3 separate regions of the Homo sapiens genome follow, and regions 1 and 3 are each reported to be linked to region 2. Evidence: microRNA targets listed by miRTarBase, many of them from high-throughput screens and not tested one by one. Region 2 holds a microRNA gene; each other region holds the end of a gene's coding sequence.

The links. Region 2 holds the annotated microRNA hsa-miR-3943 (UAGCCCCCAGGCUUCACUUGGCG, at 2,614-2,636, shown strand). A microRNA usually pairs through its seed, bases 2 to 8, with sites in the 3' UTR of a target mRNA and lowers its output. Matches are read on the target gene's strand: a 7mer-m8 pairs with bases 2 to 8, a 7mer-A1 pairs with bases 2 to 7 and ends in A, and an 8mer does both.
Region 1: the mRNA of PNMA5 is a reported target of hsa-miR-3943. Seed matches in the 3' UTR shown: 7mer-m8 at 3,073-3,079.
Region 3: miRTarBase lists STMN1 as a target of hsa-miR-3943. Seed matches in the 3' UTR shown: 7mer-A1 at 635-641.

Annotation. Positions count from the first base shown.
Region 1 is chrX:152,986,853-152,991,064 of GRCh38, forward strand. PNMA5 (PNMA family member 5) reads right to left here. Exons shown (of 4, transcript NM_001184924.2): 4 at 1,972-4,212. The coding sequence ends at 3,400. Among named protein-coding and RNA genes, the nearest start is that of PNMA5, 5.2 kb to the right of the region's middle. RefSeq lists an enhancer at 3,001-3,500.
Region 2 is chr7:43,148,304-43,152,515 of GRCh38, forward strand. MIR3943 (microRNA 3943) reads left to right here and starts at 2,592; the gene lies at 2,592-2,691. All of the region lies in intron 2 of HECW1 (HECT, C2 and WW domain containing E3 ubiquitin protein ligase 1), which reads left to right. HECW1-IT1 (HECW1 intronic transcript 1) reads left to right here. Exons shown (of 7, transcript NR_135295.1): 5 at 338-524.
Region 3 is chr1:25,897,314-25,901,491 of GRCh38, reverse strand. STMN1 (stathmin 1) reads left to right here. Exons shown (of 5, transcript NM_005563.4): 4 at 1; 5 at 405-1,376. The coding sequence ends at 476. Among named protein-coding and RNA genes, the nearest start is that of STMN1, 7.0 kb to the left of the region's middle.

The DNA.
Region 1 (4,212 bases), not on the chromosome of region 2:
ACACACTGACACACACTGACACACTCACAGTGTCACACACATTCAGCGACATGCATGCTCACCTTCAATGGCACAGCCTCATTCCCCCACACCCTCCCACTCACACACGCTCAGTGATGCAGTCACATTCTGTCACTTGGATTCACACACATTCTCAGAAACTCATGCACATGCTCACACTGACACACACACGCACACGCTCAAACACACCCGCTCACTCACACTCACACCTGCTTGGGAATCACGGCACACACAGGTCCACTCTGAACAGGGAAAACCAAGGAGCCCTGACAGGCCCTGGCAAGGTCAGCCAAGCTCTATGCCCTCTCCTCTTGCCCTGTCCCCAAAATCTGGAGGGGCCCTTGGAAAGTGAGCAGTTGACTTGGCCCTGCTGAGACACAAGGGACGGACATGCTGGGGTTGTGCCCAGCCTGAAGAAGGCAGGGAGAACAGAGCACAGTGGGGGCCCCAGGCATGCCTGCAGGGCACCCCGATGGGACACACTACAAGGGTCCCTGAGACACCGGTTAAGCACCTTCAGGCCGGGGAGGCTGCAGGCCCAGCCCCAGAGACCTGCCGCCCCCTGCCCCTCCCCGACAGCCCCGCAAAACTACCCCTCCCATGCCTGCACTGGCCTGTGTATGCCGAGTGTCTCCCAGGGCCCCTGCCGCCCTGCAGACCTGCTGACTGCAGCTCCGCTCAAGCAGACAGGTCGCCTAGATCCAGGATTCCTCAGCCCAGGTGGGCAGCCACCCATTCCCAGCATTGGCTCTGAGGCTGCTTTGGGGGAGCCTGGCTATCATCTGAGCCATGGGGATGGCCGGAGGCTCTGTGCTCCAGAACAGCCGGAGGAAGTGTGTGGACACAGACTGAGTGAGCCCCGGGAGACCCTCGCCACGTCCAAGTCAATGATCCCGTCCCCTCCCCACACATGTGCAGGGAGGGGCCTATCACTTGTCCCAGTTCTGTCGCCCACAGACTCTGGGCTAGTTAAATGGCTGATCGAGGACTACCCTCCATTTGTGGCGAGCTCCCTGGCCTGTTGGGAGAGAGAGCCAGTCCCAGGAGGGCTCAGGAGGGCGGGTTCCAGGATCCTCAGGCCCCCACCAAGAACTGCCCCTCTGGCCACAGTGCTGAAGGAGGGGTGTCTGGATTAGCAGCGCCGTCCATCCTGAGGGAGCCCTCCTCAGGCAGCATCCAGGGCTCAGAGGGCCTCGGGGATGCAGGACAGAAAGGGGTCACTCCCCAGGGCCATCTAGGCTTCCTGCTCATGGCCCACTGCCTGCTCCCAGGACACAGGAGTAGAGCGCCTCCCAGTACACTGGGAAGGGAGCAGGACAGGACCCAGGATGAAGTGCAGCTCCCCCGCCCTTCCTCTCCCCCTCCCCAAGACATGAGCACTTGGGATCCCTTTCTCGCCCACACTCTGTCCCCTTGGCCATCACACACACACTGTCCCCAAACATCCCTCAGTGGCTAGGCCAAGGCTGGCCACCTGCGGGCTGATCTGGGAGGATGGGCACACACCAGCCCCTACCCCACCCCGAGTCCTGCACACAGCTCTTCACAGGGCCTCTGACTGCCTGTCCAGGCCCTCCTGGGGCTCTTCTCTGACCTCGGTTGCTGGCCTTGGTTGCACACGTGGCCTCTCTGACCCTTCCGGAAGCCTTGAGCCACACCCCTACAGTGCTGCCAGGGATCAGGGGCCTGGGACCCACCTGCTGCCCCTTGCCCAGCCTTCAATGTCCAAGTCACTTATTCCTGAGGACACCTGGAGTGCCTTTGGTACCCAGCCAGTCACTGCTCATGACCACCAGCATCCTGTTGCCAGGCTCCATGCAGCCCAAGGCACCCCACAGGCCCTCATAGACCCTGCCCCACACACACCTCGATGTCAGCCTGGCCACTGTGGCCCCATCCCCAGCAGACCACCTCCCACCCCAGTTTCACACAGCAGAGGCAAGACACCACTGGAACACTGAACAAAATTTACTGAAGAGAAACATGAACTGAAACTGCTGAAGAAAAGGGAATCTAACACAGAGAGAAACTGCAAACAGCCACTACAGGTCACAAGTCCCCGGCCCCTCCCTCAGTGTGGCCCCCCCCACCACATCCCTCCTTCCATAGGGCCCCAGGATCCACCTCTTGCCAGGATGGTGGGCTCTGGCAATGTGTACTCGCTTCAGGGAACCCCCTCCTGAGCCCACCCGCTGGGGCAGGGCCCTGCCCTATAGACTGCACAGGACAGTCACAGGATGCTGGAAAACATAGCAGGGAACACCCCACCAAGTTGAGGAAACTGAGTCACGAGTAACAGCAGGGGTGGAACGCCAAAGCACAAAGCTTCCTGGGGAGCCTCAGGCAGCCCTGCTCCTTCCCGTGTCTGGTTGGTCCTCCTGCAGTCGAGGTCACAGTCACAAGGTGAGCGTCTGCCATGCCTCCTTCCCACCGTCTCCTGGAACTGCGCTGGGGTACTCTGGAAAGGAGCTGCTCAGATAAAAACACACACATCCCCAAGAGAACAAGCAGCCACTGGCCGAGATCTACACCGGCAAAGCAGAGGTGGAGTTCTTGACACGGAACAGCAGTGAGCAGAGCCCGGGCCTGATGATGACGCAAACCAAAAACAACTACCCACCCCCAACACATCCTCTCTTCTCTTCTTACACTTCTTCCTCCTCCTTCCCCTCTTCCTCCTCCCCCTCTTCCTCCTTCTCCTCCCCCTCTTCCTCCTGCTCCTCCTTATTCTCCTCTTCCTCCTCCCGATCATCCTCTTCTTAATTCTCCTCCTCTTTCTCTTCCTCACTGGTGCAGGGGCTTATGAATGCTGCCTTCCTGGGGCTCCCCTCATGCAGTGTAGATGATCCTAAAGACAGGCTGGACCCTGTGGCCTCCCCTGCGGGGCTTCACTTCTGCCCCACAGCTCTTCCTCAGCAGCCCTGGCTCCTTCTGGCAGAGGCAGGCCCCAGGCAGGCTCCTCCAGGTCCCACGTGGCCTGGGTGCCAGTGGGCATGCTCAGCTCAAAGTCCACAGGGTAGATATTTGGGGGTGTCCAGAGGACCAGGCCAGAGCCCCCAGCCACACCTTCTTCAGCCCCTGCTTCGCTGGGGTCCCCATCTGAAGCCCAGGCACCCCATGTGCTAAGTGTAGTGGTTCCCCGCTTGTGTCTCCTGTACCTGTTAGGGGCTATGGGCCCGGCCCCCACTGAACCAGATGCTATTTGGTCTTGGTTGGTGAAGTCCCTTCCAGCTGGTGGAAAGTAAGGGGGCTTGATCTCGACCTGGCTTCCCTGTCCCTCTGCCCCAGTCAAGTTCCCTGTTAGTGTAAGCTGCCCCTTCCCCTTGTTCAAATGTCCCTGCTGCCTGCCAGGGGAAGGAGTGCTTCGGTCTTCTGAGCCTATGTTTCCCAGGGCTTGGGATGGCTCATGGCCCCAGCCCCTGCCTCGTTTCCCAACTCCTCTCCTGCAGCCTGTGGCCCCTCCCTGCCTGGAGTCTGGTTTTCAGCCTTGGGATACGTGGCCTGGCCATGGTCTTCTCCCCTAGTGCTTTCACTGCCTAACAGCCGCCTGCGTTTCACTAATGGGGGTAAGCCTCCCTGTATGGTCTGGGGGCTGCTGTCGCTAAAAGACCTTGCCTGCACGGTGGCCTGAGGTGCAGAGACACTGGCTTCTGCTCTTGCCTGTCTACCGGAGGCCCCCCGGCCTCTCCCTGATGGCTTCTCCTTATTCTTCATCACTGCCTCAGTGTTCTCCCACTCTTCTTCATCTCGAATGAGCTTCATTAACTCCAGAAAATTGGGAGGACACCCTCGCTGATCCAAGAGCTCCAGCTTGCCCCTGAGGGCGGGGGTCATGGCGACCCGAGCTAAGAGATGTTTCAGACGAATCATGTCTGTGCTGCGCACTGACAAGGGGCTCTTGTGCACGGCTTTCTGCAGCAGGGGCTCTAAGCGCAGCAGGAAAGTGGAGACTTTCTCTCCAATCTTCGGAGAGGTCTGCAGAAACCTAAACTGAGAGGCTCTAAAGTCCTCTTTATCCCCAAAGATCTGCTTTAGGGCGTCAAGGCACTGCTCCACAGTTATGGAGTCATTGTTGGCCTGGAGCACCCGCATGATTGACAGAGCAGGCCCACGTAAGCTCTCCAGCAAACGCCGCCTCTTCTCCACCTCAGACACTTGCCATATGGGCATTATCTCAGTGACCTGCTCTAG
Region 2 (4,212 bases):
AGTCACCACTGAAAAGGCATGACCTTGGGTGAGGCTTGAAGAGGCTAGCAGCTGAAGGCATGTGCTGACAGCACTCCCAGCACCTGGCTGCAGTCCCTCCTGGAAGAGGATGTGCCTGCATGTCTCTGTGTCCTCATGCCCAAGCCATTCTGCCAGATGCTTTCCATCTAGTAGCTCTTGTCTTCACTGTGATCCTTAAAGTTAGCTAATATTTGCCCTGCCCTTTACATATGCAGAAACTCAGGTTCAGAGAGGTTAAGTAGCTTGCTAGGTAAACAGTGTTGGATACTTAAATTTGGGTCTGAGTCCAAAGCCTGTACTCTTTGGATTTCTCTAGAGAATGGATCAATCAAATAAGAAAAGAAGAGTGCATTGGGAGTCAGGAGACTGAGGTGTGGTCTGGCTCTGCTGCTAACTTCAAGTTTACACTCAATTGATCAAGTCCCTTGATGACATGGAACTAAAGTGACTTTTGAAGAACATGAGTACCTCAAGGATCTTGCTAAAATACAGATTCTGATCTAGTAGGTCTGGGATAGGGCCTGAGATTTTGCATTTCTAAGAAGCTCTCAGGTGATGTCTACACTGCTGGCAAACTGAAATCTCAGAAGACTCCAATGTCTTCTTCAGCCCTGAAAGTAAATGAGTCTCAAAAATGTAGGGACAGTTCTTCCCTACAGAAGAATTCCAATTGATAAACATAGAAGAAATTAAGGAAATACAAAATTACCATCAGAACACCCCTGTAATAATTGTGGCAAATAAAATCCACAGATGAATGCTAAAATTAGAAGCTAAAAAGTTTTAGGAGAAATACAATATTTGCATAGTATCAATGTATCTCCCCCTTAAATACGTATTGATTACAAAGAAAAAATAATGAGGTTAGAGCAGCGACCCCCTTAACCATGTGATCAAAGTCAATTATCACCAGTAATAAAACATATTGTCATCATGTTGACATATCGATATCACCTCCAGATATGATGCACTGAGAAAGACACATCACTTCTGTGTATTCTTATCCAGAACACACAACCTCAGTCTAATCATGAGAGAATATTAGATAAACCCAAAATAAGGGTCATGCTACAAAATAACTGTCCAGAATTTTTTGAAATGTCCACATCCTGAGAGACAAGGAAAGGCTGAGGAATTCTCATGGATTAGAGGAGAGCAAGGAGACATAACAGTATAATGTGGGATCTTGGATTGAATCTTGGAACAGAAAAGTGATGTTGGTAAAACATGCAAATGTCAGTAGTTTATAGTACTGTACCAATACTTAATTTTGACAAATGTATCATGATGATGTAAGATTAGATATTAACTTAAGAGGATGCTTGGTGGAAGATAAATGGTAACTCTGCCCTATTTTTGCAACTTTTCTATAAGCCTAAAATTATTCAAAAATTAAAAGTTAAAATAAAAATATTTACAGATATATTCTTCAAAATTTTTTTCAGACATATTTTATACATTAACACACTCATACAATAGGGTTTATTTAGACTTTATATATTGCATGATTTGCAAATAATGATGATTTTACTTTTAATTTTCTACTATTTTTACTTCTTTTTTCATCAAAAAAAGTAAAACTCAAACAATTTTGAATTACTGTAGTGGTCATAGATATCTTTTGGCATTGCTGAATGCAATGCAATTCTATTTCATAGAATGTCCCTTATTTTGGGTTTGTCTAATATTATCTCATGATATCTTCTTGCAGTGCAATATATCTTATGGTTAAAAATGATGATAACTAACATTTATTGTACTTACTGCAAATCAGGCACTGTGCTGAATTGTTTTAAGTGTCTTACTTCATTGTTCTGCCCAATAACCCTATTATTTTCACTATTTTACAGAAAAGGAAATAGAGAAGTAAAATAACTTGCTGAAGTTCACATAGTAATTTGTGAAACCAGGATTTGAACCAAGGTTACTTAACTTTCTAAGAAAGCTTTTAGTTACGCTGTCTATAACACTGTGTATTCCTCTGACCAATTGATTTCAGTTAGATTTGCTTTAACATTGGAAGGCTACCGTCACTGAACCAGCATTTTATTTCATTTTATTTTATTTTATTTTAGATTGAGTCTCACTCTGCCACCCAGACAGGAGTGCAGTGGTGCAATGTCAGCTCGGTGCAACCTCTGCTTCCTGGGTTCAAGTGATTCTTATGCCTCAGCCTCCTGAGTAGCTGGGATTATAGGCACCTGCCATCATGCCTGGCTAATTTTTGTATTTTCAGTAAAGATGGGGTTTCACCATTCTGGCCAGGCTTGTTTTGAACTCCTGACCTCAAGTGATCCACCTGCCTTGGCCTCCCAAAGTGCTGGGATTACAGGCATGAGCCACTGCATCAGGCCTGGATCAGCATTTTAAAGATGGCGTCACAATGGCAAAGAAACCAGTCAGTGCTTTGTGATCCTCCGCCCAGTACAGGCACAGCAGGGCATCCAGAGAAGATAGGAGTCCCAAGTTGACACCTGCCACATTCTTGGCTCAGAACAGCTGTGGCTGGGAAGGTCCATGGGCCAGGGAGCGGGTGATGAAGGACTTCAGCATCTTTATCAGCGCCCCCCCACACAGACGGCAGCTGCGGCCTAGCCCCCAGGCTTCACTTGGCGTGGACAACTTGCTAAGTAAAGTGGGGGGTGGGCCACGGCTGGCTCCTACCTGGACAGGCCTCCAGCTAACTCCGGGCTTGCACAGCAAATACAAGAAAAAAAGAAACAGAAAAATCAGTTCATGTGCCCTTTCCTGACTTCTCCTGGCACCTACAGCCCTGACTGCAGAGATGGTCCCGTGGTCCCAAGACAGAGGCTGGAGAAGTGAGTGGAGCCAAGAGGCAGAAAGATCTCAGTAATTTGGAAAAAATTCCCAACTGGGTGCAGCTGGCTACACCTTTTCTTCCCCAGGTGACACTCAGGGAGGATAACATGATCTCATAAGATTATTTTTGGGGTTTCCTTGACTTAGAGTTTCCATTCTTTAGTATTCTGCCTGGGGCACAGAAAGTACTTAGTAAACCTTGTAAAAATGATTGATTTACACTTTTCTTTGATAAACATGGACAGACAATGAAGGATTTTAACTGAAGACACTTTAAGAAAAGCAGCAGATCAGATGGGTTGGGGGAAGATGTGAAGTGTTTGGGAAAATGCATAAAACAGAATTAATTTTTAAAATAAAAATTGAAGAACATCTCAATTAGCAATCTCAAGGAGAGTTGTGGGGGATATTGTGCCAAAAAAGTAGGCTGCTTTGAAAAAGGAAATTTAAAATGTGATTGCTGAAGGAGCCCCACTGATATTGGCAACAAATACCAAATAAACATTGCTAAAAATTGAATTAGGGATTTAGAAACTAACTTGAGGGGTTTTCACAGAACATAGAATGAAAATATAAATAGGAATTACAAGATAGAAGTGACTGAGAGGATAGATTTAGTGTATCCAACATATGTTTATTCTCTTCACTCTAATTGGAACAGATGGAGAAGGGATAATATTTAAAGATATATAAGAGAAAATTTACCTAGGCTAAAGAAAGATTTGAGGTTGCTGGTGAAAATTTCTCCCAAACCCATACAAGATATTGAAAAAGACACATACATATACATATCCTAATAATATGTTCTAATTTCATGAGTAAAGACATAAATTCTATAGATCTCTAAACTAAAAAAAAGATGGGAGAGATCAACCTAAAGTGTCATCAAACAGCTCATTTACCACACTAATTGCCTGATGACAAAGGAGCAAGATTCACCAAGATTGTGAACCTGGATTCCTTTGTGTAGACAAACTAGTATTTGTATAGCTACAAATGAAATATACTTTGAGATGTGAAAATACTTAGGAAATATTCTGTTAATGCATAATTTCTGGGAAAAAAAATGTTCAAGGACCTATACCACTCATTAAAACCCATCAGAATACAGAACAAATACAAGTGAAAGATAGTACATACGTGAGACAGTTATAAGCATTGAAAGCAGTAATCTCACAGGTAAGCCAAAATGTATTTTGAAACTATGTATTTTGGGAATACAACTGTGAACAAAAAAGTCCTAATAATAAGAGGCATAAATTAATAAAATCGTAACAATCCAGAACTAAAGTTTCAAATGGTTTTTTAAAATATGTTGGATAGAAGTATTTAATTTTTCAGAGCATTATATTGCTCTTTATTCTTTTTTAT
Region 3 (4,178 bases), not on the chromosome of region 2:
GGTTGGTTTCTTACTTTGTAAAAGGGTTGAGCTTGGAGTTTGATGCACCAATGAGTTGGCTTGAACTAAGTGCTTTGATAAAAGGTGTTTGGTGTCTTTTTGTCATCCATTTTGGGGCTTAACATATTAAATGAAAGGTATATTTTAAGATGGAATATTCAGTAATTCCCAGCATAATTGCACAGTCCTTGGAAGTCCAGTAGGCAGCTTGTTAGGTTCTACAAGGGACCCAGGAGATTTGATGATGATGTCTCAGAACTTAAATTGTGTGGTTCCCACAGGCTGTAATATATGCACTGAGGTTGTGTTGGGCCTCTTTGAGGTGGGGGCTGGGGGTCGTGACTTGACAGGCTTTTTTTTTTTTTTTTTTTTTTGACTGATGACACCTTACCCTTCCTTTACAGGATAAGCACATTGAAGAAGTGCGGAAGAACAAAGAATCCAAAGACCCTGCTGACGAGACTGAAGCTGACTAATTTGTTCTGAGAACTGACTTTCTCCCCATCCCCTTCCTAAATATCCAAAGACTGTACTGGCCAGTGTCATTTTATTTTTTCCCTCCTGACAAATATTTTAGAAGCTAATGTAGGACTGTATAGGTAGATCCAGATCCAGACTGTAAGATGTTGTTTTAGGGGCTAAAGGGGAGAAACTGAAAGTGTTTTACTCTTTTTCTAAAGTGTTGGTCTTTCTAATGTAGCTATTTTTCTTGTTGCATCTTTTCTACTTCAGTACACTTGGTGTACTGGGTTAATGGCTAGTACTGTATTGGCTCTGTGAAAACATATTTGTGAAAAGAGTATGTAGTGGCTTCTTTTGAACTGTTAGATGCTGAATATCTGTTCACTTTTCAATCCCAATTCTGTCCCAATCTTACCAGATGCTACTGGACTTGAATGGTTAATAAAACTGCACAGTGCTGTTGGTGGCAGTGACTTCTTTTGAGTTAGGTTAATAAATCAAGCCATAGAGCCCCTCCTGGTTGATACTTGTTCCAGATGGGGCCTTTGGGGCTGGTAGAAATACCCAACGCACAAATGACCGCACGTTCTCTGCCCCGTTTCTTGCCCCAGTGTGGTTTGCATTGTCTCCTTCCACAATGACTGCTTTGTTTGGATGCCTCAGCCCAGGTCAGCTGTTACTTTCTTTCAGATGTTTATTTGCAAACAACCATTTTTTGTTCTGTGTCCCTTTTAAAAGGCAGATTAAAAGCACAAGCGTGTTTCTAGAGAACAGTTGAGAGAGAATCTCAAGATTCTACTTGGTGGTTTGCTTGCTCTACGTTACAGGTGGGGCATGTCCTCATCCTTTCCTGCCATAAAAGCTATGACACGAGAATCAGAATATTAATAAAACTTTATGTACTGCTGTAGCAACTCCTGTGAAATGACTAAAGGGAACCTTAATTATTTCTAAAGTAGCATTTGACTCGGGTGGTTAAGGTTGGCAGATACGTCATCTTGTATCCAGAGGCTGTAATAGTCCCCATTGTCAGTGCTTTGCCTCTCAATTCAGGGAACGCCTTTGGCAGCTTTCCTGTGCTATTTGAGAAATAGCCTAATTATACATATTTTGTGCCTCTCAGACATCTGTATAAAAGCTCTTGGAAGCCAAGCACTTATAGCAAAAGATGATTGCTAATACTGCGGTGGGGTCCATGTGTTGCTAACGCATGTGCCTCTGCTGCTTGGGCTGTATCTTGAGATTGGGGTTTTACCAAACTTATTCATGAGAACAATAACAGCCTACCTCAACTTACCTCCTAAGATTGTTAGGATTAAATGGGTTTGTGGCAAGAGAGCACACTTAGAACATAGATATTTAGCATTCCGTATAAATCACGATTACTGTTTTCAACCAGAGGCTAATGAGTGATCTAAGTTTATACTCTTGAGTTGGAAATTATGCAGTTTTTATATTCCTTAAATTGACTTTTAAATTTACTTAAATGATCAATCAGAGGAATTCTGAACAAAGCTTGGTTTAAGGAGTTACGCCCATGTAGGGCAAATAGGAGCAAGTGCAAGTATAGTTGAATACAACAATAGGTTCTGAGCAATATCTAAACCAAGAGGACAGGATGAGGCTTGTGTGCAGTGGTGCAGCACAGTTCATCTTGGCTCCTGTCTCTGGCACATAGCAGGTGCTCTGGGATCTTTAAAATACCAGTTCTGAATAGATGGGAATATAAAGAGGGCCTGAGGGTAGAAACTTGGCATAATGATACGAGGTGTCCTACAAGTGGCAGTGAGCTTTTGTTCATCTAAGACATTTAGGGAGGGAAACTGGCCTCAGGAGAAAGCAAGGGAAGGATCAACAGGCCTGAAAGGATGCCTCATCAGTTACCACCCATCCCATGGTGGCCCTGACTTCCTATCAGAGGGCGATCCTGAGCCCCTGCCTTGTGACAGGCTTAAGTCACAGGAAACTGAAGGGGATGCATCTTACCACAGAAATAGAAGCTCTGGCTTTTCTATTTCACCTTGACCTTTGGAGAAGCACTTAGTCCTGGGCCCCCATTTTCTCCTGGATAAAATGAGATGGTTGGGGGAGATCAGTTAAGTAACTTTCACTCCCCCATTCTTTGCATCTGGCTTGGAGTGAAGAGGAGGAGCGGTGGCACCTACGAGCTTCTGGGGAAGTGTCTCTGGGTATGCATTCCCGGGCCCGGCATTCTCTGCCATCACGGGAGTCTGCGTCTGTCCCAGTGGGGCCAGCCTCTCCCAGCAGTACTTCCAATAGATTGGCCTAATAAGGCCAGAGTGGTTTGACAAGCAGTTGGGGCTGTCACCAAGGAGCAGACTCCATTCCTTTTGTCTTGAATGGAAAATGAGGCTTGTCCCTTCCTGAGGATTTTGTACTTGGGCCTTATGGTTGACTGGGCTCAGTGGAGAGAGGTTTGAAGGACGTGAAGGAGGCCCTTAAATTAACATTTGACAAGCACCTAGATTGTGCTCCACACTGGCCTTTGCGCTAGGGATGGAGAAAAGATGGGGTGGGACCAGCATATCACGTGCCCATGTGAGGGGAAGGAGAGCTGTAGAATGCTTACTTACCTGAGGGTGAGGCTCTCGACCACATACTTGTACTCACCAGGGTGCTTTAGTGCTTTGGTGAAAGGAGTGACCACAGAGGGCTTTGTGGTCTGGGAAGCTTTGAGAGGAGAAAGGACATGAGCTTGTCCTTTTGGAAGTCAGATGAACCTTCCAAGCCAAACCCCAATAAAGCACTTAATTGTTAAACACTTAGTAAGCCTGTGATTGCCACGTGCACAGAGAACCTGCCATAGTTAATGGCCTTTGGCAGGCCCTCCAGGCAGGCCCCCTCCCCATTTTTTTATTCTAAGCAGTGGAGGCTCTTTGAAGGCTTTTGAATGTGGGGGGCTGCAGTGGTCAGTAACAAAACCATTTTAAGGAAGAGAAAGTGGAGGCAGGGTGAGTTGACTGGAGAGTGGCTGCCGTTCAGGCTACGGTGGCCATGGTGGCTGTTGGGGCAGCACAGGGATGAGGTGGGAGGGCCTGCTGGGCTCTGGAGCAATCCATGTGACTGACACTGCACTGAGGAACTGGGACATGTGCTCTAAACTTGGGAAGCTGGAGGAGAAAGAAATCACTCCACTTGGGAAAATGGCAGTGCTACTATTTACTGAGCACTTAACGTCCAGGCATCGTGTTCATTTTCTCCACCATAGAGAAGTGAACAGGCAGAGTAACGTACCCAAGGTCCTAAGCTAGTAGGAGAAGCTTACCCAGGCAGATCTGCTCTAAGCCCTGCACAGGAAGGGGGGCTGCTCTGACAGCTCAGCATCCCCTCGTTGCCCGGAACAATTCCCCTCTGCCTCAGACCTGCTCACAAGTCTCAGCAAATGAAAGCCCTACTATTCAGCCGTTCCCACCTCCTTAAAAAGGCAGGGCCTCTTATCCTTGCATGCCTTGGAGTGAGGTCTCATCCCCCACCCCCAGCACCTTTATAAAGGTGCTCCTGTCTACTCTGTATCATTCTCCCAGTGGAGAATTCTGATTTTCAGTGATGTTTTAGCTGTCCCGGTAAACCTGTGCACCCAGATGACAGTTTGGCTACCTTACTGCGAATTCATTTGTTTGAATCACTGTTAAATGTGGTTCATTTAGGAATACAGAAGATAAAGGCCAAATTTTTTCTTTTCTTTTTTTTTTTTT